Regions from separate parts of the Homo sapiens genome. Here regions 2, 3 and 4 are each linked to region 1. The links come from fine-mapping of genetic effects on gene expression. A gene starts in region 1. Each other region holds a variant in brackets. All regions are shown on one strand. Distances are from middle to middle. Region 1 holds the start of ASCC2 (activating signal cointegrator 1 complex subunit 2). Region 2 overlaps MTMR3 (myotubularin related protein 3). Region 3 overlaps ASCC2 (activating signal cointegrator 1 complex subunit 2). Region 4 overlaps ASCC2 (activating signal cointegrator 1 complex subunit 2).

The links. PIP is the estimated chance that this variant, and not a neighbour inherited with it, causes the effect. A credible set is the group of variants that fine-mapping cannot tell apart.
Region 2: its variant is the best candidate, but not a certain one, in a credible set for the expression of ASCC2 in whole blood (INTERVAL, PIP 0.89).
Region 3: its variant is the best candidate, but not a certain one, in a credible set for the expression of ASCC2 in macrophages (Alasoo 2018, PIP 0.65).
Region 4: its variant is the best candidate, but not a certain one, in a credible set for the expression of ASCC2 in whole blood (TOPMed, PIP 0.53).

Annotation. Positions count from the first base shown.
Region 1 is chr22:29,835,334-29,840,592 of GRCh38, reverse strand. It overlaps ASCC2 (activating signal cointegrator 1 complex subunit 2), which reads left to right and starts at 2,319. Exons shown (of 20, transcript NM_032204.5): 1 at 2,319-2,415. RefSeq lists an enhancer at 1,987-2,046.
Region 2 is chr22:30,012,202-30,017,460 of GRCh38, reverse strand. It overlaps MTMR3 (myotubularin related protein 3), which reads right to left. Exons shown (of 20, transcript NM_021090.4): 13 at 4,898-5,093; 14 at 3,920-4,105; 15 at 763-933. The region is part of intron 4 of HORMAD2-AS1 (HORMAD2 and MTMR3 antisense RNA 1); the gene reads left to right. Among named protein-coding and RNA genes, the nearest start is that of MIR6818, 7.8 kb to the right of the region's middle. The variant AAAAAG/G (reference allele first, on the strand shown) is at 2,954.
Region 3 is chr22:29,795,401-29,800,400 of GRCh38, reverse strand. The region is part of intron 15 of ASCC2 (activating signal cointegrator 1 complex subunit 2); the gene reads left to right. Among named protein-coding and RNA genes, the nearest start is that of UQCR10, 31 kb to the right of the region's middle. RefSeq lists enhancers at 711-1,211, 1,212-1,712. The variant A/G (reference allele first, on the strand shown) is at 2,792.
Region 4 is chr22:29,801,706-29,806,705 of GRCh38, reverse strand. It overlaps ASCC2 (activating signal cointegrator 1 complex subunit 2), which reads left to right. Exons shown (of 20, transcript NM_032204.5): 11 at 153-221; 12 at 416-490; 13 at 1,876-2,068; 14 at 4,498-4,712. Among named protein-coding and RNA genes, the nearest start is that of ASCC2, 34 kb to the left of the region's middle. The variant T/C (reference allele first, on the strand shown) is at 2,296.

The DNA of each region.
Region 1 (5,259 bases):
AACATGGCAAAACTGATGTCACTTTCTTGATTAGGTTACATGAGGTTGTAATTTCTCTCTTCTTAGTAGAATCTCCTATTGCCTCCTTTTGTTTGTTTGAGACAGGGTCTTGCTCTGTTGTGCAGGCTGGAGTGCAGTGGTGTGATCACAGCTAACTGCAGCCTCGAACTCCTGGGCTCAAGCAATTCTCCTGCCTCGACCTCCTAAGTAGCTGGGACTACAGGCATGCACCAGCATGCCTGGCTAATTTTAAATTTTTTTTTGTAGAGACGAAGTCTCGCTATGTTGCCTAAGATGGCCTCAGACTTCTGGGCTCAAGCAATCTTCCCACCTTAGCCCCCCGAAGTGTTGGGATTATAGGCATGAGCCACGGTGCCCGGCCCCTATTGCCTTCTTTTATTTATTTATTTATTTTTAATTTTTAGAGACTGGGTCTTGCTATGTTGCTCAGGCTCAATTTGAACTCCTAGGCGCAAACAATCCTCCTGCTTCAGCCTCCCAACCTGCTGGAACCATAAGCATGTGCCACCACTCTTGGCTTCCCTATTAACTTTTAGGCTTGCATGCTTTGATGAAGCAGGCTGCTACACTGGAGAAGCCTACGTGACAAGCCTTTAGCCAAAATCCAGCTAGGAACTGAGACCCTTAGTCCAACAACCATTAAGGAACTGAATTTAGCCACTAGACATGGGAAGCAGATCCTTTTTGAGTTGAGCCTTTAAATGAGACTCCAGCCCTGGCCGATATCTTGATTGCAGTCTTGTGGGTGACCCTGATGCAGAGGAGCCAGCTATGCCATCCTCAGATTCCTGGCCCACAGAAAATGTGAGATAATAAATATGTTTGTTGGCCAGGTGTGGTGGCTCACGCCTGTAACCCCAGCACTTTGGAAGGCTGAGGCAGGCGGATCACGACGTCAAGAGATCGAGACCATCCTGGCCAACATGGTGAAACTCCGTCTCTACTAAAAATACAAAAATTAGCTGGGCCTGGTGGCTCATGCCTGTAGTCCTGCCTACTTGGGAGGCTGAGGCAGGAGAATCGCTTGAACCCACTGTAACCTCCGGGAGGCAGAGGTTACAGTGAGCCAAGATCACACCACTGCACTCCAGCCTGGTGACAGAGTGAGACTCTGTCTCAAAATAAATAAATAAATAAATGTGTTTGTTATAAGTGGCAAGCAGTGTGTTGTTATAAGTTTGTGGTAATATGTTATGCAGCAATACAAAACTAATATAATATCCAGCCCCTCTCATCTCATTTCTGGTTTACAGCCCATCTCTCCTATTTCCTTAGCACCCTGCATTCATCACACTGACTCATTGCTATTGGTTTTCTTGCACTTCCTATCCTGTAAGCCCCTTGAAGACAGGCACTGAACTAAGCATTCCTTGTAGCCCTAGTGCAGATAGCAGGGGTTGGCAGGAGTGTCCTGGGAAATATTTCACAATCCCAGGGTGGGGTTGTGTTCTCCATTCGGGGGCTTCTATAACACCCCAATAATGATGGTGGTTGGTTTTGAATTCTTACTGTGTACCAGGCACTGAGATGAAGCCAGGAATGTGTGTTCTTAACAAGTTTTCTGTGATGATTCTGATCCATAGTCAGGCTTAGGAACCACTAAACCTACATTACCTGAGACATTCTGTAGAAAAAATTGCATCCTTCTCTTAGGATAGCTATACTTGTAACTTCCTTAAACAAAACAGAACAAAACTGTATTGCATACATACAGAAAAATGCACAAATCTTAAGCGTACAATTTGATGAATTTTCCAAAGTGAACACATCTACATGGCTACCACCGAGATGAAGACAGGGGGTGACCCCAGCCTCACTTGTGGCCCCTCCCAGCCCACAGCCCCAGAGGAAACCACCAATTTTAACACCATCACTACTCATGAGTTCTGTCTGTTCTAGAATTTCCCGTAAATGAAATCGCAGTCTGTACTTGTACATCTGCTTAACATTATGTTCGTGCTTTTGACTTGTTAAAATTTCTCTTCTGGATTAAATATGTAAAACGGTGACTAAGGAGGTCGGGCAGAAGGTGGAAGCCTGGGATTCCGAGACGTCCTCTCAGGTGCCATACTTGGATTTCCCGAGAGGTGTAATCACACAGCCCGCCCTCAGCTGACCTATTCTCTGCTTAAGCAGGAAGGGAGATAGGAGGGGAAGGGGGCGTGGCTACAGACGCCGAGTGTGGGGCGGAGTCTTAAGAAGAGAGGCGCAACCCGGGTCCGGCTTCCCGGCGGTAGTTTGCTCGGCTCTGGGGGCGGGGCCAGGCCGAGACTTCCTGTCTGCTCCTGCGGAATCGCAGTTTGACCCCGGAAGTGCGGGCGCTCAGGGAGCTGTCACCGTGGTCGGCGGCGGCGGCGGCGGCGGCGGCACAGAGCCGGTGGTGGAGCCGCCGAGGTGAGTGCGTGGCTGGTCCCTGCCAGATGCAGGGCAAGGGACCCCGGAGGAGCCGCGGCTATGCCTTGGGCAGCCTTGGCTCTCCCATCCTCTGGCCTCCATTGCGGGGCCCACGCTTACGCTACCTGAGGGGTTGTGAGCCGCCTCTCGAGACTTGGCCGCCAGGGTCAGGAGCCACGGGTTCGAAGTTCGGCCCCAGAGTGGCGTTGGACCAGCCACGATCCCCCCACGTCCTCACACCCGGGGCTTCAGTTTCCTCAGGGTTCATTCATTCGTTCAGCAAATATTTGTGGAGTGCTTCCTATGTGCCAGACACAGATCTAGACATTGGGGATACAAAGAAAGCAAGACAGACAAGGCTTCTGCCCTCATGGAGCTTACAGTCTAGTGGGAGGAGATGGTCAACGACAAGCAAATGCACAAGGTCATTAAAGCTATGACAGTAACTGGGAGAGTGGATACTATAGGCAGAGCCATCAGAAGGTCTCTGAGGAGAGTAGTATTTAATTGAGAGACTAGAGGAATGATGACAAAGAGGCTGAGGGAGCAGTAGCCCCGGGGATGCTCCCAGGCCATATTGCAATTGGGTGCTTGTAGGGAGCTCCCCCTCCCTTTCTTAGCTTTTGGCTTTTGCTGTCCTGCCTGGCAGGGGAATACAGTGGTGGGCACAGACATAGTCATGATTATTGTTTGTCCTTTTGGAGCTCAAAGTTCAGATTGTCCAGTTAATTTATTTTTTCCCCCCAAGACGGGGTCTTGCTCTGTCGCCCAGGCTGGAGTGCAGTGGCGTGATCTCGTCCCACTGCAACCTCCGCCTCCCGGGTTCAAGCGATTCTCCTGCCTCAGCCTCCTGAGTAGCTAGGATTACAGGCATGCACCACCACGCCCTGCTAATTTTTTTTTTTTTTTTCGGTAGAGACGGGGTTTCACCTTGCTAGCCAGGATGGTCTCGATCTCCTGGCCTCGTGATCCGCCCGCCTTGGCCTCCCAAAGCGCTGGGATTACAGGCGTGAGCCATCGCGCCCAGCCCTGCCTACTTAATTTGTACCCGTGCTTTAGACAAAAACTCAGGTCTTCCTTGACATCACTTCTTCCTCAAGCCAGGTCTCTCTTTTAAATGCTGCCACAGCTTCATGAGCCTTATCTACATAGCTACATCATGGTATTGGTTTTTATTTGTTTGTATGGCTAATTGGAAAAGTATCTGTCTTTCCCCATTATGACTGTAAGCTCTGTGAAGGGCAGGAGCAGGTTTGTTATTTGCCCACCTTAATATTCTCTGGGCATCAGTGCCTGCCACATAATAGGTGTTCAAAAATATTTGAATGGCCGGGCAGTGACTCATGCCTGTAATCCCAGCATTTTGGGAAGCCAAGGCGGGCGGATCACCTGAGGTCAGGAGTTCCAGACCAGCCTGGCCAGCATGGCAAAACCCTCTCTCTACTAAAAATACAAAAATTAGCCAGGCGTATGCCTGTATTCCCAGCTACTCGGGAGGCTGAGGCAGGAGAATCTCTTGAACCCGGGAGACAGAGGTGGCAGTGAGCCGAGATCGTTCCTCTGCACTCTAGCCTGGGTGACAGAGTGAGACTCCATCTCAAAAAAAAAGGAATGAATGAAATGATTAACGTACTGTTTGCTCTCTCGTGGTTTATTAAAGGTCTTTTCTGCCACCAGGTTATCATCATCTCTTTCTGGTCATGTCTGTCTCATACTTAAATGACTCCTCACTGCCTTCAGGTGAAATACTAAAATCTTTAGTGTAGCATTGAGGCTTTTTTTTTTTTTTTTTTTTTTTGAGATGGAGTCTCGCTCTGTCGCCCAGGCTGGAGTGCAATGGCGTGATCTCGGCTCACTGCAACCTTCGCCTCCCGGGTTCAAGCTATTTTGAGGCTCTTTTTAAACTGGTCCTGTCTTCCCTATCCAGCTTCTCTTCTCTCTTCACTTCTGTCATCCCCTATCTGACCTGTGTTTTCAGTAACACCAAATGTCTCCCTCTTCCTTCAAAGCCACACTTTTTAGACAGGGTCTCACTGTGTCCCCTAGGCTGGAGTTCAGTGACGTATCATGGCTCATTGCAACCTCAATCTCCTGGGCTCAAGCAATTCTCCTTCCGTGGCTTCCCAAAGTGCTGATTGCAGGCGGAAGCCACCTCACCCGACCCAAAGCCACACATTTTAAGACTCTGAGCCTTTGTTCATGCTTGCTCTCTGCTTGGAATGTCACCTTTTCCCCCATCCTTCAACATCCAGGTTATAGATCACCTTCTTTGTAATATCCTTCCTTTCTCTACTATACTGTAGTTTTGGACATTTCCTGTTACAGCTTTAATGCCAAATCATAGTCAGTTATATGCCTAGGACCCAGATTGTATTCAGGAATTGTTTGCTGAATAAACCAGGAAGCCCAAAGTGTCTTGCCTCTGGTTGGGACTTGAATAATAACAACAACTAAACTTTATTGAGTGCTTATTATGTGCCAGGTATTGGGTTGAACACTTCACATTGATTACTTCTCATAGCAACCCTACGAGTTTATGTACTATTACAATTCTGGTATTACAGAAGAGGCAATCAAAAGTTAGAGAGGTTAGGGAACTGTCTCAAGGTCTCAACATGGATAGGAAAAGGTGGAGCCAGGACTTGAATCCAGGCTGTAGGACTGTAGCGCTCTCTCCCTACCACCACACCAGGCTAGCCCTGAATTGCCCTGGCAGGCAATGGTTTGTAGGAGTGAATTTCTTTTAAAGAAAAAAAATTTTTTTTTTTTTTTTAAATTTTGGGACAGGGTCTTGCTCTGTCACCTAGGATGGAGTGCAGTGGTGCCATCATGGCTTACTGCAGC
Region 2 (5,259 bases), 180 kb before region 1:
TTGTTACTTCCCCAGAAGGCACACTGAAGGGGAGAGACAAGCAGTCAGCTTAAATCTTTTCTGTGATTACTTAAATGTAATGAGAACCATATTAATAGTCCAGGAAATCAGTATGAACTCTGATTAGCCTCCTTTTGACTTCTTTAGGGTCTAAGATGCATTCTGACAAAGCTAGTATTACTATGAAACTGACACATAGGTCTATGTGCCTCCTTTTCTCTGCTTAACAGAAGGTATTCATTCCTTCGGGGAACAAAGTCTTAAAGGGCCTGCCAGCTCTTCATGTGAGCAGAGAATCAGACAGACACACATACCAATGTCAAACACAGTTTACTGTTCTGAGACAGAAGCTTTGGTGGGTATCATTGCTTATTGACACTGGGAGGGTGCTGGGGGCCTGGTGGCAGCTCATTCTGAGCTATCAGTGCATCAGGAAGCAACTTAAGTGCCTCTCCCGTAAGACAGAATATGCTAGAAATAAGCTCTGGAGGCAGTGCCAAAAAAGATTCATGTCTAGGGTGGCAAAGTAGAGATCTGTGTTAAACCAAACCACCCTCAGCAAGTAGTCATCAGAAACAGATCAGAGCACCATCAGAAGCAGGCCTTCCTCAGGACAGAATCATGGGGGAAAAATGGAACCAGTCCATCCAGAGACAGTAGAGATGTCTTCACAAAAACAGTCACTACTCAAAAAGGCTCTCATATGTAACCAACCCCAAATTCCTTCTGCTGACCACAGTGGAAAGGCTGAAGGATACATACGGCTTCTGACTGAGAGGAATACAGTAGGTTTTTGAAAGCCTTGTTGCCTGCCCGAAGAAGTGACCACACGGAACATGTCCGTTCCTGAGTATGCTTTTCCCCTCTCTCCTTGGCGTTGTTGCACAGGAATGTTCCAAACAGGCAGGAATAGGTATGCTGCACCAGTTTCACCTATGGAAGTCCAATGAAGCACAAATTAAGCAATCAGGCATGCACACTCTGATAAGTCAGCTCAGCTGAGCCACCTTATCCTAACATCCCTGAGAACACTTCAATTTACTCTGTCAGGACGGGGAACCCAGTAAGCCATGCAGTAGCCTCCTCCTCCTCACACCACCAATTCCAGGACCCAACAACCTGAGTCAGACAGGTTGTTGGTGCCCCTATTCCTCTTAGCTTCCGTGATAAATAGTCTGAGATTGTGAATTAACAGCCACTCTCACAAGCGCCACAGCATATGAACTGGGTGCAGGAGCACGTCAGTGTACAACTCAAGTCTGAGCTGACAGTATGTTTGTAAAACTACTTGTTCATTCTACAAATTATTGAGCATTTCACATGGCCCAAACATGACTAAGGTGCTGGGCATGTAGCAATGACCAGCAAATTCTTCTGCCCTGATGGAGCTTGCTCTAGTCATAGCTGAAGAGTGACCAGTGCTATGGAGAACAAGGCAGACTGAGATGGACAGGACACATATGAGGCAGTGCAGGATGGCCTCACTGGCTGGGACCCAGTGGACTTGAAAGAGCAGGCATGTGGGTATCTGAGGGGAAGCACTCCAGGCAGAGGCAACCACAGGTGCAATGGCTTTGAGGTAAAGCACATGCTTGCAATTTCTGAGCTACAGCAAGGAGGCCAGTGTGACTAAAGGAGATTGCAGAAGAGGGAGAATGGTAGGAAATGAACCTAGAGAGGTAACCTCTAGGAAGGCCCTGGAGACCATTTTAAGAACTTTGGCTTTTGTGTAAAATGTAACTAGAGGTTTTTAAGCCAAGGAATGACACAGCCTGCCTTGTGTTTTAGAAGAGACTCTATGCTGGGATAACTCAATTGGGGCAGGAGATGATGGTGGCTTGAACCAGTGTGGTACCAGTAAAGGTGGCAATAAATAACCAGGTTTTAGATAGATTGCGAAAGCAGAGCTGCAGAATCTGACTGAATGTGGAAGAGGGAGGGAGGGAAGGAGGGAGGGAGGGAGGGAGGGAGGAGACTTGACGATGACAAAGAATTTTGCCCCAAACAAAAGGAGGGATGGAAATGCCATATGGTGAGAGAGAAGACTTCTGGAAGATCAAGTTTTATAGTGAGGAAACACAGGAATCAAGAATCAAGTTTTGGACAGGCATGGTGACTCATGCCTGTTAATACCAGCATTTTGGAAGGCCGGGGTGGGAGGATATTGTTTGAGCCCAGGTGTTTGAGACCTGCCTGGGCAACAAAGCAAGACCCCATCTCTTAAAAAAAAAAAAAAAATTAAAAACATCAGCCAGGCACAGTGGTACGCACCTGCAGTCCTAGCTACTCAGGGGGCTAAGGTGAGAAGATCACTTGACCCTGGGAGTTCAAGGCTGCAGTGGGCTGTGTTTGCGCCACTGTACTCCAGCCTGGGTGACAGAGTGAGATGCTGTCTCCAAAAAGAAGCATCAAGTTTTGAATTTATTAAGTCTGAATCAACATTAAGACAGCCAAGTGGAGATACCTAGTAGTAACTTAGATACGTGAGTCTGAAGTGGAGAGGTCTAAGCTGAAGGTGTATAAATGTGGGACTCATCAGCATACAGATGGCAATTAAAGCCACTAGAATGGATGAAATACTTGGAAGTGTGGATGGAGGAGCAGCCTGGAGGCTGAGCAAGGGGGCATTCCAACATTTAGAACTGGGGAGAGGAGGCTAGGTGTCGAAGCTTACGCCTGTAATTCTTTGGGCAACCAAGGCGGGAGAATCACTTGCCAGGAGGTTTGAGACCAGCCTGGGCAACATAGCGAGACTCCATGTCTATTTACAAAAAATTTTTAAAAACTAGCCAGGCATCTTGGCATGTGCCTGTGGTCCCAGCTACTGGGGAGGCTGAGGTGGGAGAATCTCTTGATCCCAGAAGTTTGAGGATGCAGTGAGTTATGATCACACTGCTGCACTCCAGCTTGGGTGACACAGCAAGATACTATCTGAAAAAAAAAAAAAAAAAAA[AAAAAG/G]AACTGGAGGGATTAAGGGGAATCAGCAAAGGAGGCAGAAACAATCCAGTAAGGTAAAAGGAGAACTAACAGCAAGGAAGTACTAGAAGTCAACTGCAAGGAAGTACTAGAAGGTCAATTGAAGAAAGCATTTCAAGGAAGGAGTGGTTAAACTGTGCCAAATGGTAATGATGGATCAAAGAGATGAAGACTGAGAACTTCTCACTGGATTGGTGGCATGAAGGTCACTGGTCATTTTAACAAGAGCAGCTTTGTTAAGCAGTGGGGTGAATGCCTGATTGAAGTGGGTTTAAGAGAGAGTGGAAAGAGAAATTTGAGATAGCAAGGGTAGAAAACTTGAGGAGCTCTGCTGTAAAGGGGAACAAGAGCAATAGGATGATAGCTAGAGGTAAATGCAGGACCAAGAATGGGTTTTAAAAAGATGAGAGACACTACACATTTTTAAGCTGAAACCCATGCTCTGGTAGAGAGGGAAACGCACTGATGCAGAAGGCAGAGAAGAGAAATGCTGGAGCCAGCCAGTGCAGCAGATGAGAGGAGATGAGAGCTGGTATACAAATGGACAGAGGGGCTGAAAGAGGGCAGGGATAGTGTACCCTCCATCAAAGGAGAGGGTGCAGAGTCTGAGACAGTCATGGGGGTCTGGTAGACAGACTGGAGGGAGTATGGTCCAGACATTCTGATTGCTTCTATTTCTAACTGCTATTTAGGGTTTCTACCATCCCTTTAAAAAAAAACTAAGTTTAAAACAACACAAGGACTTCATGCAAACCTGGTATACCTGGATTTTCTCTTTTTGAAAATAGCAAAATTATTTACTAAAAAAAAAAGCAGAAACAGGAAAAAAATCACCTCTATTAAATTCTGAAGAGGCAGCACAGTTTCATGTGAGAACTGGCCCACTAACATTTGTACTGACCCTCCTTCAAATTGAGAAAGTCCCCAAAATGAAGAAACTTACAAGGAATGCTTCATTGAACTCAAAAGAGCAAGGAAATTGCCTCTGAAGCTGATGAACACAGTCAAGCCACTGCAGAAACACTGGGCAACGTTCATTCAGATCATCCGAGTTCTCCCCATGACCACACCGGTCAGCAAATTTATGGCCAAAATCCAGCCACTCCATTTCCACGAGGACCTGGAAACCCTGCAGGGAAGCATCCAGGAGAGACCATTTGTGCTAGACTATCCAGACTGTGACAGTCCTAAGCCTGGTGTCACAGAAAGCAATCCCCTCTAACAGCCTCCCAGAAAGCCCACCCGGCCTTGCCCTTTGGTGGAAGGCTCTATCCCTGATGAGGCACACACTTAGGGAAATTTCCCAATTCCCTGAACTCCATTCCATGATCACTAAAATGGTACTGACTGCGTTTATCTAAGCCTTTCTTGAATGTGTATTTTTAGCCTCTTGTGTTCACTATATAAAAACCACACTTTTCCCCTAAATTTCTCTTAACATTTCTGCCTCTGGTGTTACAAAGTCAAGTCTGTAAAATCCTTCTATACCCCAAGTTTAATTAATACTTGCATATATTTTAGGGTACTTTATGATTTTTCTTTCATCTTTAACCCAACAGATGGTTATTTCAGGTAGAGCTGCTTCTCCACAGAACACTCTGGTAATATCTAGCATGCCAAGATCCTTTTACAGACTCCTTATTTTCCTGAGGTAGCTAAAAACTTTTACAAGTAGATAGACTGTAAAGGAAAATATGTCTATATTCTCAATACCTTGTTACCCATAATCTGCCCCATTTTAAGAGGTGCAAGAACTGTGGGAGGAACCACCACAATTTAGCTCATGGCATAAAGGAACAATGACCAAAACAGAAATTTCACTTTCTTTAACCGAATCACCACTCCCAAAACTGGTATCACTCCTGAGACGTTTCCCTGGCTCATCCTGAAGTACCAACCCCTCCCATTTGGATGGGCTCACCTCTATGGTTCGGTAATAAGGGTCCAGCAAGAGCTTAGCCAATGCCACAATCTGGGGGGTGCGGTCCCAGCCATCTGAGCAGTGTACTAGCACCGGCCGCTGATCCTGATCCACAGCATGCACTACCAGAAGCGCTGATTTCAGAAGCACAGACAAGTGATGGAGCCATTTTGTGCTTTCAAGAGCTGATAGCCAACTATAAAAACAGGAGAGGATTAGAAAATGCTGATTTTTTTATGATTTACTGCATCATGCTCAATGATTGTCAAATGAAAAAGCAATTTCCAAAGATTTCTCTCTCCAAATATAACACTGCCAAAACAAAAAAATCTGTGTGTTTATAAAGCATGTCTCAGGATGAG
Region 3 (5,000 bases), 40 kb after region 1:
CTGCCCACGTGGAGTTTGCATTAATCAACTCATCAAACAAGCAACATCAAATTGCAGGTATAACAAATACTACAAGCTGGAGGTGCACAGAATTCTGAGCCTTTGGTAGGGCTTCACCCCAGTCAAGAAGGCTCCTCTGAGAACATGACATGGGACCGAGAGCTAAAGGGTGAGGAGGGGTCACTTCTGCAAAGGAGGGAAGGAGAAGCTTCCCAAGCAGAGCAACAGGGACAGTGGTCCCGAGGCCATAGTGAGCACAGCAAAGGGTCCCATGAACCGACAAAGCCAGCATATTTTATGTTTTGAAAAGATCAGGGCTGGGTGCAGCGGCTCATGCCTAGTCCCAGCACTTTGGGAGGCCAAGGCAGGTGGATCACTTGAGTCCAGGAGTTCGAGACCAGCCTGGGCAACATAGCGAAACCCCATATATACAAAAAATACAAAAATTAGCCGGGTGTGCTGGCACACGCCTATAGTTCCAGCTACTCTGGAGGCTGAGGCAGTAAGATCACTTAAGCCCAGGAGGTCAAGGCTGCAATGAGCTGTGATCGTGCCACTGTACTCCAGCCTGGGTGACACAGTAAGAACCTGTCTCAAGAAAAAAAAATAAGAGAGTTCACCCAGCGTTGGAATGATGACCCATCAGAGGGACAGAGAGTTGGATGTCATGGTAAAGAGTACAACATCCAAGTAGAGAACAGCAAAATAAGATGTATTCTAGTCCCCCAAAGTTCTGCATGGAATCTAGAAATCAGGGGACTTCTTTACAAGTACAGGCTGCTCTTTCACCATCACGTGAATGGGGACCGTGAGGTTCAGAGAGGGAGGAGACCAGCCAGCCTTGTTCCTGTGGTAGGAGCCCCAGTGGCGGAAATGCCAGCTGCTTCTTCAGTTAGGGCCCTGTGCTGTTACCCCTCCCTAGGGCTGTCCACTGCTAAAAGCTTGGCTGGCTGAGGGCTTGGGGAACTGGCGCAGGGCAACTACAAAGCCGTCTGGCTGGCTGGACAGGAAGCACTTGCAAACTGCTTAGTCATACACATTGCAACACCCCCAGATCCCAGGCCAAAGATGTTATCCTGGATCAGTGGCCGCTATTCCAGGCCAGCATGGCCCTCTGTAGCTCCAGCGGTGGGCAAGGGGCAGACAAGGGGTCCTCCAGGCTGGCGAGAAGCCTGGCCCCCTGCTCCAATCCAGGAAGCCTGATTGGTAAGTTCCCCACAGAGATTAGCCATCTCTGGATATGGCCTTTCACCTTGATCTGTGGTTTTGTCCAGGGCCCATGGTATTGTAAAGTCTCATCTCACCCCACCTAGGTCATAAGTCACCTACGAGCATTTGCCAAGGGGCTGGTCCCAGCTGTCAGGGTCAGCAGAGTGGCTGGCATTGAGGTGGCCAGGTTTCTGGAACACTGTGCCCTTGTTCCTGGGGCCCTCTGGGCTGGCACGCAGAGAGACTCACTGTGCTGGGTAGCCCAGGGGCTGCAGATTGCAAAGAGGCAAAGCCTCCATTCATGTGTTCATTATTTATTCATTCAGCAAATATTTATTAAGAGATTTAGTAGCACCAGATCCTATGCTAGACACCAGGGAAACAGGGTGAGCTGGATACCCGGCCTTGCCCTCAAATGATCATAAGAAAGACCATTAAACAAGTAAGGACAGAGTGGGAGGTGCTGGGGTGGGGTACACAGGAACTTCGGCAGGGACACATGTCCTAATCCCATGAGAAATTAGGTAGGACGCTGCAGATGGTAGTGGAGTTAAAATGTGTTCGTTGTTGAATCAGATAGGCTGTACTCAGTGCTTAAGTAGTAAGGAAATCTGTTCCCTTGCATGACAAGGCGGTGTAAGGTAGGGCCGTCTAGGCTTGGTTGACCTATCATCCAGAATGTATCTTTCCAGTCTCTTGGGGCCTCACTTCGTGGTCAGGCTACTTCCTTTGAGGCTGCAGAGGGGCTGCAGCTGTTTCTACTATGGCTTCCAGACATGACAGTGCCAGGAGATAGTCCAGACCAGGTCTTCCTGTGTCTCTCCTAGAGCCTAGGATACCTTTCCCAGAAGTCTCCAATACCCCTCATATCTCATCAGGAAAACCAACTCACAGGGTGCAGGCCTGGAGCTCCAGGGTGAAACGGAAAGGTAGAAAGACCTAAAGAAAATGTAGGGTCTGTTTGGAGAATGGGTGAGGTGCAGCATGGCTGTTGTGGAGACATCAATACATGTGCTACAGGTATATCATAGCCAGTGAAGGAGTCAGTGGGCAAGAGGCAGGGTCCCCTAATCCCTTTGGACCATTCCATGGTGCCCTGGAAGACAACATGTGTTCTAAAAATATCTGTGCCGGCTGGGCGTGGTGGCTGTAATCCCTGCACTTTGGGAGGCCAAGGTGGGTGGATCACCTGAGGTCAGGAGTTCAAAACCAACCTGGCCAACATGGTGAAACCCCATCTCTACTAAAAATACAAAAAACTAGCTGGGCATGGTGGCAGGCATCTGTAATCTCAGTTACTCGGGAGGCTGAGGCAGGAGAATCATTTGAACCTGGGAGGTGGAGGTTGCAGTGAGCCAGGATCACACCATTGCACGCCATCCTGGGCAACAAGAGTGAAACCCTGTCTCAAAAAATAATAATAATTAAAATTTTATTTTAAGTGTCTGTGCCCTTGGTCTGCCTTTTGGGGAGTCGCAGAGCACATTAAGGCTCTGAAAAGTCCTGTAGTAAAAGAAACAGGATTCACTTTGTTGAGCCCAGAAAGTGCTGGATCTGCTTCGACATGTCATTTCTTTCTCAC[A/G]TCAGCCCTGGGAAGTGGGTGCCAAGAGAAGGAACTGAGACTTAGCGAGGTTAAGGGACTTGCCTGTGGTCACACAGCCCAGGAAGTGGCAAAGCAGACCTGAATCAGGAGACCTGTGTCTGGCCCTGGCTTTGCTCTTAGTAGCTGTGTGACCTTAAGAGGGTTGCTCTGCCTCTCTGGATCCCCTGATTCTTCACCTGGAAAAGTAGGAGTCTGTTGCTTCCACAGGCTCTTTAGAAGTTCAAAGGCAGGAGTCACCCTGCTAAGGACCAGTTTGAATTGGGCCTTGAAGGACAGGCTTGAGGAGATGAGGAAGGGAAAGGTGGCGAGGTTTCAGGGGCACCTGCATATTCCCAGGGCTTGCTCCCATCTTGGAGGCTGAGGAAGCTACCTGCTCCAGAGGGTCTCTGCAGCCACCATTGCCTGTGTTTCCAGGCTTGACTGAAGTTCTGGCCTCTGATGCATCTTTTCCCAGCTGGCTTTGGTCCTGATTTTTCTTTTTCCTTTCTGGCTCCAAATGAGGTCTGGGGCCAAGGTTGCATCTCCCTGGACAAGCTGCCCAGGTGCCCGGGCTTCACTGTCCCTACCTGTGTCTTCTTCCAGGGCATAGCTAGGGTGGGTGGAGCTTGCCATGCTTCTCTGCCTGGCCCTGCCAGGGAGCCACATAACCAGAGGCCACACAGCATGAAAGAACTGCCCCACTGCACAGAACCAGGGATGGGATGGACCAGAAGCCGAAGGTGTAGCAGAAAGGATGGTGATGCCTCTCATTCTTCCTCAGTCTCCTGGCCCAGCACAGGTCCTGGAACCTATTAGGCCCTTAGGAAATATGTGTCAAATGCATGGGTGTGCTCCTACCAGTGGCACCTACCACCTGAACAAGCTTGGGCTCCTTTTTCTTCCTCTCTACCTCTTTTTCAGCTTAGCATAGAAAGCCAGGTACAGGGCCAAGGTCACAGTCACAGGCCCCTTCCCTGGTGGATGTGAAAGATTTCTTTGAACTGAGATTTCTCCCTGGTCTAAATCAAGTGCACCATCCCTCCTGCCATACCTTGGGGCTCCTGGTCCAATCAAGTAACCCCCTACCGTGGAGCCTCCATTACCCCTTCCTACAGATGCCCAGCCAGACCTCCTGAACCAAGTTCATTCCCTTTGTTTCCAGGGCTTCCGTTCAGCACATTTCGTGTTGACTGGTCTGTCATCTCCACTACACTGAGTTCATGAGGGCAGATCTCTATCTTCTTCATTTCTGAATCTCTCCCCAACTCAGCCTCATACCCTGCCCGGCACAGAGAAGGTCCTTAATAAAGACTACTAAAAAAAAATACAAAAAATTAGCTGGGCTTGGTGGCACACACGTGTAGTCCCAGCTACTGGGGAGGCTAAGGCAGGAGAATCGCTTGAACCCGGCTGGTGGAGGTTGCAGTGAGCTGAGATCACGCCACTGCACTCCAGCCTGGGCAACAGAGCAAGAGTCCGTCTCAAAAAAAAAAAAGATGTGAAGGGAGGCAAACCCTAGCCCGCCATGCTGAAGGCTGCAGTCCTGACCTGCCCTGGCTGCCAGGCAGATAGCCTGACAGACTGAGATGGACTCAGACGCCTGCCTCTCCCTGCACCAAAAGCCAGTTAATAGAAGATTTTTATGGAAGCTCTGTTTGGCTTTGTGTCTTTTCTTTTTTTTTTTATTATCTTACCCTTGATACATTCCAGAGACCCGATTTCACAGCTAAGCTGGATTTTCTTGCCTGGCATCTCATATTGATTTTCCCCTGCAGGGCTAGAAGCTACATTCCACAGGCCTGGGTATGTTTCTGACAAGCCAGGTTTTTTCACAGGTTTGCAAAGCCGTGAGTTGAGAAGCCTCAGTCCCTGCCGAAGCTGTGCTGCAGCTCACTTGTGACCCAAACATGTTCCTTCTCCCACCCAATGCACCCGAGTTTCCTCACCTGTAACGTGACCAGAGTTGGGCTTCCAAACATTTTCTTCCAGTGAAATTTTACATGGAAACTTGAGCTGTGGAAGAGACAGAAGGCTGCTGTAGTGAGGTGGGGGTGATAGGAAGAGGACTGGGAACCCCCTTTTCTTATACCCCAGATATCCCTATGGCTCCCTTGAGCTCAGTCAGAAAGCCACATGTGGCCTTACTGCTTCTTAAATTTTTGTTTGTTGGCAAGGAAAGGTCATTTTTGAAAAAACAATAAACGAATAA
Region 4 (5,000 bases), 34 kb after region 1:
GCACTGGGGTTGGCTGAACAGAGATGAGAAACCAAGAAAAATGCCTCATTCCTCCACTGGGCCCCAGCCTTAAAGAGGGGCAGCGGGTGTGTAAAGGAGCTGCAGCTCATCTTGCATTGCATGAGCTCATCTTCCCTGGTGTCTTGTTCTAGCTGTGACAACATTCAGGGCTTCATCGAAGAGTTCCTTCAGATCTTCAGCTCCTTGCTGCAGGAGAAGAGGTGAGTGTGGCTGAGCTGGCCTGGGCCCATGACCCTCCCACAGGTCCCCAAGAGGCCTTACATGATAGACCCCCGCTATAGGCCCACCACAGCTCTAATAAGGTCGGGCTGCAAACACAGGGAGTGGCCTGCAGCAGCACAGCATTCCTGTGGCCCCAGCTCTGTCCATCCCATCTGCTCTCATCTGCCTGCAGGTTCCTCCGGGACTATGATGCACTCTTCCCCGTGGCCGAAGACATCAGCTTGCTGCAGCAGGCCTCATCAGTCTTGTATCCTTCTACCATAGCCCACTACGACAGGGCCCAGCTTGACTAGGTCAGAGGTGAGACAGGCTGCTGGAACCCAGAGGAGTGGAAAGAGGTTTAGCCCCAGAACGCATGGGTCAGCCAGCTGTCCGAGGTGGCCTGCCAAGGTCCCAGCCTTGCCTTTTCTAGAGGAGATGGCTGCTCTGATGCTTGGGGCAGGGGAGATGCAGTGCTATTTTCCGTCTGTGTTTCCTGAGTATCTGGGCCTATGTGACCAAGATGGACTCAGCCCCTCCTCACAGCAGGAGGGGAGGTGGACAAGTAAACAGGCAGTTAGATAGAGTGTCACGTGGGAAGATTTCAGAGGGCAGGAAACCAGAGGTGGCGCCTCACCCAGCAGAGCTCTGGGTGGGGGTCTCAGATGGAAATGATGTCCAAGCAGAAGAACAGCAGAAAGAATGGGAGAGCACCAAGCCAGGAGCAAGGACAAGGACAAGAATGTTCGCAGTGGACAGAGGACAGAGAAAACAGGCTCCTTAGAGCCACAGACGTGTATAGAGTACAGGGGGCAGTCCTTAAGGAGGGGTCTCCCAAGAGGAGGAATTGGGGTGTTGCAGGTGAGGTGAAGGCCAGCAACGTGCACAGCCCTGGGGTGACCATCACTAAGAAGTTTGGGCTCTGTCCTGCAAGCGCTGGGGAGCGCGGAAGGTTGTGAAGCAGGAAGTGACATGGGCAGTTCTATACTTTGGAAAAGCTCTGTCTGGCCCAGGGAAGAGAATGGACTGGCCCAGGACCACCGTGAGGCTCGGGCCAGTGAGGAGGCTGTTGCTGGCATCCAAGCATGGATGATGAGGGTTTGGACAAGAAGCAGTGAGGGAGTCTAAGGGGACTCTCAGATTTCTGGCTTGACAGTGCCCAGGGTTGTTAACAAGGAGGAAGGACAGGGAGGAGCAGCCAGCTTATGGGTCATTTTTGGTGGTTGCAGTAGATTGCTCAGTCCTGCTTCAGGGAAACCTGATGGCCCACAGCCTTTGCAGAATGCCCTCAGCTGGTTGGACAGGAAGCCCAGTGGCAGTGGCCCTACCACGCCCTCCTCCTGGCAGTCAGTACAAAAGAGGAGCTGCTGGCTCGTCCATACCTGTGCCCCAGGACACTCTGATGGCAGCCCTGGCCCTGTCTTTACTCAGAGCTGCTTTCTGCTGAGTGAAAGGCACTAGGTTGTGAGGCCAGAGTGGCTGTAGTCTGGCCCATTTTTCCATGCAGCCCAGGTGCCCGTGGGCTATACCACTTAGATATAGCCCAGAAAGCCCCTGGCAGGAACCATGTGGTCAGATGCTGGGGAGGGACTGAGAAATTATGCTGCTTCAGAGCTAGGAGCTTAAGACAGACCCCTTAACAAGTCCTCACAGGGACGAGACGCGGACTGCCTACATCCTCCAGGCAGTCGAGAGTGCATGGGAAGGGGTGGACAGACGGAAAGCCACAGATGCTAAAGACCCATCGGTGATTGAGGAGCCTAATGGGGAGCCTAACGGGGTCACGGTGACAGCAGAGGCAGTCAGTCAAGCATCATCACATCCGGAGAACTCGGAGGAAGAGGAGGTATGTGTCTGAGTGGCGCTTTTCCCTCTTCGCTTGTCCCTCCTTGGCCCTATCTGAGAGGCTGGGGCAGCAGGAAACCTCCCTTCTTTGCTTTTATACTCAGGGAAAAAGTTTTTTTGGGGAATAGACAGCCTCAAGCAACTGGTCAGCTCTGTGCTGCCTTTAGAGGGTCCCAAGCTGGGGGCATGCTGGACTGTGTGTGAGGAGAGAGCAAGTTGCTTCAACTA[T/C]CGAAGCCTTAGCTTCCCCTCTATAAAATGAAGAGACGAAACTTTCCATGAACGTTTCCATGAGCCCTTCCCGGAGCTCTCCTCTAAATAGATAAAAGTGGAGCTCCTTTGGTTGCAACTGGGAACAGTGCCAAGTCCCATGGTTTGGCCTTCTTGGAAGCCCCTCCGTGGGGCTCCAGGATTCCACTGAACAAGTGTAGAAACCTCGGATCTGGTGCCTTCTCTCCAGGCTTTTCCAGGACTGGCCGAATCTGTGGCTGTCTTGATTGGCCACCAAGGCCAGGACTCTCCCCTGCATGTTGGGAGGCAGCATGATAAGAGAGATGAAGACCACACAGACTCAGGCGAGGCAGCTCAGGGGTGTGACCTGGTTCTGCCACTTGGCAGCTGTATGGCCTTAGGCACGTCACTCACGTTGAACCTTGGTTCCTCATCTATAAGGTGGGGACAGATGTAGTGCCCACCTCCATGAGGTGTTGGGATTCCCAGAGCTATCACATGGAATACCCTGAGCCTGACTGGCCTTCAGTGCTCCATTAACAAATGCCACAGTCCTTCCTCCCAGCCCAGACCCTGTGATTCCTGCAGGGCCTTGGAGAACAATGGCCTCCTTCACCTTTTCCCACCTTCTTCCCCATTTCGCTTCTTAGCAGAGTCATGGAGGTTTTATTGTTGTGATCTGTAAATTTCCTTAAATTAAAAGGCTAACACAATTAAGTCACATTGAGCAATATATAAAATGCATGCCCCTTACTTAAAAAAGAGATTGTAATTAAAGGGGAGCATCTCCACACAGTCCAGCTCTGGTGGTTGATGTTCGCCTCCACCGTCAGTAAACTTGTTGGAAAAGGACCTTGGATTAGTAGGAAGAATTGGTAGAAACCAGGGCTGTTTATGGAGGGCCTGGTCTGTGCCAAGTACTGTGCTCACTGGGTTTTGTGCCATCTTTGAACTATTTGAAACAACCCCATGAGGTGGGTGGTATAGGCCCATTTTATAAGGAGGAAACTGAGGTTCAGAGAGGGGAAGCATCCTGCCCAAAGTCACACAGCCAGTAGCCCAGCTGGTAAGTCATACAGTCCCTTCAAAATTTTAATTTAATTTAATTTAATATAATTATTTATTTGTTTTTGTTTGTTTGTTTTTTGTTTTTTTTTTGGAGATGGAGTTTTACTCTTATTGCCCAGGCTGGAGTGCAATAGTGCGATCTCTGCTTACTGCAACCTCTGCCTCCTGGGATCAAGCGATTCTCCTGTGTCAGCCTCCTGAGTAACTGGGATTGCAGACACCCACCACCACACCCAGCTAATTTTTTGTATTTTTTTTAGCAGAGATGGGGTTTCACCATGTTGGTCAGGCTGGTCTCAAACTCCTGACCTCAGATGATCCACCTGCCTCAGCCTCCCAAAGTGCTGGGATTATAGGCATGAGCACCATGCCTGGCCTAATTTATTTTATTTTATTTTTTATTTTTTGAGACAGGGTCTTGCTCTGTCACCCAGGCTGGAGTGCAGTGGCTTGATCAAGCTCACTGCAGCCTCGACCTTCTGGGATCAAGTAATCCTCCCACCTCAGCCTCCTAAGTAGCTGGGACCACAGGCGCATGCCACCACGCCTGGCTAATTTTTTTAGTAGAGACAGGGTTTCACTGTGTTGCCCAGGCTGGTCTCAAACTCCTGAGCTCAGGCAGTCCACCCGTCTCGGCCTCCCAAAGTGCTAGGATTACAGGCATGAGCCACCACACCCGGCCACCTGGCTACTTTTTTAAATTTTTTGAACAGATGGGGTCTTGCTGTGTTGCTCAGGCTGGTCTAACTCCTGAGCTCAAGTAATTCTCTTGCCTCAGCCTCCCAAAGTGCTGGGATTATAGGTATGAGCCACTGTACCCGGCCTTAAATTTTTTTTATTTTTTTTTTTTGTTTATTTTCCTGGATATGTAGTAGGTGTATATATTTATAGGTTACATGAGATATTTTGATACAGGCATGCAATAATCATAACAATCACGAGCCCCCTTTTTCACAGAGAAGGAAATGGAGGCTCAGAGAGACTTGAGTCACTTGACAAAGTTCCCACAGGCAGGAGGGGTAATCCCAGGACTTGAACCAGATCCCTGATGCCTAGTCCAGTGCTGTCTGGGGCCTGTGGCCCTATCACCGGCCCACTTAGCCTTCCCCTTCTTGGCTCTGGCTCTCACTACAGTGCATGGGAGCAGCCGCGGCTGTGGGCCCTGCCATGTGTGGGGTGGAACTGGACTCTCTCATCTCCCAAGTGAAGGACCTGCTGCCAGACCTTGGTGAGGGCTTCATCCTGGCCTGCCTGGAGTACTACCACTACGACCCAGAGCAGGTGATCAACAATATCCTGGAGGAGCGGCTGGCCCCCACCCTCAGCCAGCTGGACCGCAACCTAGACAGGTGGGAGAGACAGGTGGGAGGAGGCTCCCGCTGCCCAGGCTGCCTCGGGGTGGGGCCCCTTCCTCTCTTCCTTCCCTCATTCATGGCCCAGGACTCAGCTTGTTCTCTCTTCCCAGCCATTTAAACTAAAGCCCTCTTTGGGGAAACATAAAAACCTTAGGCCCCGCAGGAGTTTTTCACTTGCCCCAGGCAGGGCAGAGAGTGTACACATCCCTGCCACACTTTGTGGGAAGGCTGATTAGAGCGCCATGGATGTGTCTTCAGGGATGTAACACAGGGTTGTTGAGC